2 separate regions of the Homo sapiens genome follow, and region 2 is linked to region 1. The links come from fine-mapping of genetic effects on gene expression. A gene starts in region 1. The other region holds a variant in brackets. All regions are shown on one strand. Distances are from middle to middle. Region 1 holds the start of GLB1L2 (galactosidase beta 1 like 2). Region 2 holds the start of LOC124902798 (a long non-coding RNA gene).

The links.
Region 2: its variant is fine-mapped to the expression of GLB1L2 in tibial artery (GTEx, PIP above 0.99). The same link has a PIP of 0.9 or more in atrial appendage and prefrontal cortex.

What each region holds. Positions count from the first base shown.
Region 1 is chr11:134,330,380-134,333,119 of GRCh38, forward strand. It overlaps GLB1L2 (galactosidase beta 1 like 2), which reads left to right and starts at 1,609. Exons shown (of 19, transcript NM_001370461.1): 1 at 1,609-1,768. The coding sequence starts at 1,683. RefSeq lists a silencer at 1,459-1,758.
Region 2 is chr11:134,375,361-134,378,371 of GRCh38, forward strand. GLB1L2 (galactosidase beta 1 like 2) reads left to right here. Exons shown (of 19, transcript NM_001370461.1): 19 at 1-964. LOC124902798 (a long non-coding RNA gene) reads left to right here and starts at 1,436. Exons shown (of 2, transcript XR_007062961.1): 1 at 1,436-1,894; 2 at 2,704-2,981. RefSeq lists an enhancer at 1,101-2,000. The variant C/T (reference allele first, on the strand shown) is at 1,646.

The DNA.
Region 1 (2,740 bases):
TTTTTTGAAAACACTCAGTTATGTATATTTTTCTCGCACAAATAAAAACGAAGGATACAAGGGTGGGCCAAGGAGTTCACGGTTTTCACAACCCATGTTAAGTTTTTGCTAACGTTTGAAGAAAAATGGAGATGCTTGTATTGCTTAAACCATTTGAGAATTCCCTTATATTTGATAGATTCTGCCACTGTTCAACGTGACCAGAAGTGAGAGGATGAATGTGGGGTGCATGTCTTTCGGATGGTCCCCTGCAGGCAAAGGGGCTAGCCTTTGACAATTTCTCCACACGCTTCGGGGCTAGCTGGTATATTCCAATTAAACCAACATGTTTCCATCACAGACTTCATAGCCATCAAGCAATCATAGCCTTACCCAATGGAGAAAAGGAGCGGGCTTGGAGCGCGTCCACGGGAGTGGGCCTCCCTCTGCGCGCCTCTGGGAATGTTTGCGGTGCTTAAGTCAGACCCGGATTGCTCCAAGCCCAGCTTATCCTCCCCAGTTCTGCCAGGGTTTTTTTCCTCTTGTTTGTTCGTTTGTTTTTGCCTCTCTTTGATTTAACTTTTGCTCCTTGACTAAATATGTGCTTAACGCTAGACAAAGGACACTTCATACCCAAGTCTGTGTCTTTGTTCCAAGATCTGCAATTTCATTTGGTTCCTGTCGGCTTTACAAGTTCAAAACTATGCCCCCGTTTAGGAAATGAATTCAAAGCATGCGGCAAGGGAGACATTCGACAAACCCGGATGCTCTGGAAAACGTTGCCCTTCCTCGAGTTTCTTTCAGTAAAATCTGAATTTTGTTCCCGGGAGGAGTTGGGTTTGTGATTGCTACAGTGTAAGTTGCACCGAAATACTACATCATGTTCTTTGGGACATACATTCTGTTTCAGAATAAGAATGATATTCTTCCTTTCCTAAAATGTGAGAGTTTTATATGGACCTTTTTAAAATAAAAAATTGGAAGCCCTTGGAGTCAAGGCCAGAGTAAGACTCGCAGAAACCAAAGACAGAAAATATTTGGAACCCCCCCTCCTCAGACATGAACCACACTGAAATGTGTCCAGATACAATTCTTCAAAATCCTGGCTTTTCACAGGATGATTTGTTATTGAAAAAGTTGTTTGCTTCAGAATCTGAATTGTTTTAAAAGATTCTGTTGGTTGCCCCTGCTTTGCGGACGCCTTTTGTACGTTCTTCCTGATGTAGCGCTGCGAGGGGCGACTTTACCTCGGCGTTTGACAGGTACGCAGCATTCCCGCACCCGCCTGCGCCTCGCGAGCAGAAAGACGGCGGACTCTGCACCGCTCCACGACACTGGGGACCCGCCCCGGCCAGACCCGTCCCCTACCGAGACCTTGTCCCCGCCCCGCCCCCGGCCGGGGCCCCGCCCCGCCAGCCCCGCCCCCGCCAGCCCCCTCTCCTACCGAGACCTCGTCCCCGCCCACCAGCCCCGCCCCGCCCCCCCCCCGACAGAGGCCCCGCCCCGGCCCCGGCCAGCCCCGCCCCCGCTTGCGCGAGGCCTAGGGCTGCAGGCGCGGAGCCGCGAGCCCCAGCCAATGAGCGCCGGCGGGCCGGTTGCCCAGGCGACCAGTGCGCGGCTCCGCCCCCCGCGGCGAGGCTCCCGCGCGCGGCTGAGTGCGGACTGGAGTGGGAACCCGGGTCCCCGCGCTTAGAGAACACGCGATGACCACGTGGAGCCTCCGGCGGAGGCCGGCCCGCACGCTGGGACTCCTGCTGCTGGTCGTCTTGGGCTTCCTGGTGCTCCGCAGGTGAGAGAGAGCTTCGCGCAGCACCTGCCGGACCCCACATTCCCCAGCCCTCCGCACCTCGGGTTCTCTCCTCCCGCGACCCGCGAATCCCGAGTTCCCGGGGGGAGCAGCCCCAGCTGCTTCTTTCTGGGAGCTCCCCAATACCCCCGAGTTCCCCTGCGGCTGCAGGCACTCTACTCCTGCCGCGCGATCCAGGCCTCTGGGCGACACCCGGCGTGCCCTCGGGAGCCGGCGTCTGTGCCCCGAGCCGCCCACCCCGCCGCGCCTGTGACGCCGGGCTCTGCCCCCCGTGGACGCCCGCAGCCCTCCAGCCGTCAGAGCCCTCTCAGACGCACCCCATCGCGGCCCCGTCCCCACTGCTCCGCGGAGAGCTCCCTCTGCCCTTCCCCCAGGCCCCCCTTTTCCTCCCAAGCCTCTGGGAGGCGCCTTATTCCGCAGAGGCCGGCGCTTCAGCCTGGCAGGTATGGTCTAGCCAGCTGGCCTGGCAGGGTCGTAAGAACAGTGTCCGTGGGCCTCCAAGATCCCGGGCCATGATTTATTTGCACAGTAGGACTGATAGGTCGTCTCTCTCCACTTTCCCACCATTCACCTGTTACCAGCTCACCCTTTCCTCTCCCCCTTTTCCAAATGTTGTTTATGGCAAAGGAGTGGCTTCAGTGATACTGTGATTTACCCACAGCCTGTGAAAAAGTTTTCTGGGTGCCCTAGCCCAGCATTTTTCTAAACTGTGCTTATTTTAAGGATTCTACAGCCCTGACCCTATCTTTCAGGTCAGCACTTTCCATATTCAAAACCTCCAGTGGGAAGCCGACCGGCAGTATCGAATGAACTGAACGGTTGGAAGTGGTGGCAGGCCCTACGCCGCTCGGCTTTGTCATTTGCTTCTTTTTTACTTAGAGAAACTAAGTTCTTAGTTTCTCTGCACTTCCCCTGGGAGACAGGGAAGTTTTTGATGGAGATAAATATCTGGAA
Region 2 (3,011 bases), 45 kb after region 1:
AGAAAAAGTGCTGAAACGTGCCCTTGCACTGGACGTCACAGCCCTGCGAGCATCTGCTGGACTCAGGCGTGCTCTTTGCTGGTTCCTGGGAGGCTTGGCCACATCCCTCATGGCCCCATTTTATCCCCGAAATCCTGGGTGTGTCACCAGTGTAGAGGGTGGGGAAGGGGTGTCTCACCTGAGCTGACTTTGTTCTTCCTTCACAACCTTCTGAGCCTTCTTTGGGATTCTGGAAGGAACTCGGCGTGAGAAACATGTGACTTCCCCTTTCCCTTCCCACTCGCTGCTTCCCACAGGGTGACAGGCTGGGCTGGAGAAACAGAAATCCTCACCCTGCGTCTTCCCAAGTTAGCAGGTGTCTCTGGTGTTCAGTGAGGAGGACATGTGAGTCCTGGCAGAAGCCATGGCCCATGTCTGCACATCCAGGGAGGAGGACAGAAGGCCCAGCTCACATGTGAGTCCTGGCAGAAGCCATGGCCCATGTCTGCACATCCAGGGAGGAGGACAGAAGGCCCAGCTCACATGTGAGTCCTGGCAGAAGCCATGGCCCATGTCTGCACATCCAGGGAGGAGGACAGAAGGCCCAGCTCACATGTGAGTCCTGGCAGAAGCCATGGCCCATGTCTGCACATCCAGGGAGGAGGACAGAAGGCCCAGCTCACATGTGAGTCCTGGCAGAAGCCATGGCCCATGTCTGCACATCCAGGGAGGAGGACAGAAGGCCCAGCTCACATGTGAGTCCTGGCAGAAGCCATGGCCCATGTCTGCACATCCAGGGAGGAGGACAGAAGGCCCAGCTCAGTGGCCCCCGCCCCCCACCCCCCACGCCCGAACAGCAGGGGCAGAGCAGCCCTCCTTCGAAGTGTGTCCAAGTCCGCATTTGAGCCTTGTTCTGGGGCCCAGCCCAACACCTGGCTTGGGCTCACTGTCCTGAGTTGCAGTAAAGCTATAACCTTGAATCACACCCCCTCTGGTGATAGTCTCTGGTCATGTGTGCCACTCTTGCCAGAAGGGAAGGCTGTCTGAGAGCTTGGTTTTCTTGGTCAGGTTCCCATTGGGCCCCACTTGCCGCCTGGGGGTCCAGATGGGGACCGTCCCTGGGGTGGGTGGGCCATGATCCTGGCCTCATATTCCCCTCCTGACCCCGACTTCCCTTCAAATGTCTCTGGATTGGAAGTGCCCTGGAGAGGACAGTTCAAATGCAAATTCATTCTCATGCTGGTGGGCGGGGGTAAGAATCTGCCAGGCAGTCAAGGGCGCTCCATATGAGTTAACTGCGGGGTTGAGTTTTGCTTCACAAACTACATCTGGCATCTACTGCCAAAACCAAATTATCTCCAGTAAGAGTCAGAAAGTCAAGTAGCACACACATCCCCGGCACAGCGAGAGCTCTGGGAGCCCCGTGAAGGTGGGCTGGGGGATGGTGAGCCGTGGAGCTCACTGAGGCCAGCAGGCTTGCTGCCCGTGTGTGGCTGCCCAGGGGGAGTGCAGGGGACATTCGTGGTGTGCAGCCCAGCAGCTGAGCCGGGTCAAGGGCTTATTAAATGGAGCTTATTAAAGGAAAGCTTGTGGACAGTGGCTTGGGAACAACATGGGGCAGAGTCCCTGGTTTTGCCCAAACTCACCAGTTCTTCTGGAACTGCCT[C/T]GGAACGACAAGCATGGGGCTAAGATGTGGATGAGACTCGGGCTACTTGGGTGTGGCCTGAGCCACCTGCAGGGTCTTCTGCCCCGCTTTACCTGAGTGTGTGCTTCTGCAGAGCTGTGTATGAGCTGGTTCCGTCAGAAAGTGATGGAATGGAAGGGAACCTTCCTGCAAATCCTCCTGTAAGGTGGAGAAGCCCCTTGGATCACACTTCCACGCAGACCTGAGCAGGACACACTGTGGTTTCCTAAGGTGAGGTCTTCCTACACCAGCTTCTTATTCTCACCCTTATTTTCTGCCAGTTAATTGCTCAGCTTCTCTATCAAAGTACCTCTTGGCAGAGCTTATTCTCCAGCGTTGACTAAAGATGTTTCCATTATCTTCCACACGGTATGGCCTCATCTAGGTCTCTTTGGAGAATCCCTCTTCATATCCAGCCTCTGAATGCTGGGGGTCTCTGGCCCACTCCTTGGGCTGTTTCTTTCCTCTGTCCACACTCACTGCATAGGGTCTCACCCGTGCACCTGTGGTTTGTAAACAGGTTGGACACCCGCGCCCGCCGATGCTGGGCTGCACCTGAGCTCCAGGTGTGTGGGGGCGCATTTTCTTCTGCATGTGTCTAACAGGCACCTGACACAGAGCTCCATTTCCCCACATTACCCCTCCTGCACGCAGCCCTGTATCTGGAAATGGCAGTGCTGTTCTGTGTCTCGGGCTATTTTGGACCCCTCTCTTTATCTCCCACATCCAATCCAGCAGCAGATCCTCCTGGCTCTGCCTCCTAAACTTGGCCAAAATTTGACTGCTTCTCTCTGCCCCAACCCCATGCCCCCACTCAGCCCACTGCATCTTGGCCTGGATGATTCCAGGAGCCACGTCTCCACCTGCCCTTGCCCTCTCCATTTATCCTCCGTGGAGGAGCAGGGCAGTTCTTCTTAGAGATGGATAGATTATGTTAGTCCTCCGTACTGGACCCCCTATTGCCTTCTGGTTTCACCCGGTGCCTGGGGACTCCCTTCTCCCACGCCCACCACATCCCTCACTGCTGTTGCCCCCAGCAGCCCCCGCCCCGTCAGTTGAGCCCGATGGCCTTCCTGCTGATCTGTAAGCAGGCTGAGCAACGCTTGTTCCGCCTGGTGGAGAGTTCGTTCTTCTTGGGCCCGGGGAGCTGCATGTCAGGGTGTTGCTGCTTCGCTCAAGGGTCACTTATCACGGAGGCCTCTGTGGTCACCCTACAGAGCACTGACCCTCTCCACTGCTACCTCTGTCTCCCCGACTCACCCTCATCCTCCATACAACAGATTGCATCTGAAATAATATGCATTCGTTATTGCCTGTCTCCTCTCGTCAGTGGGTCAGTTCTTTGAAA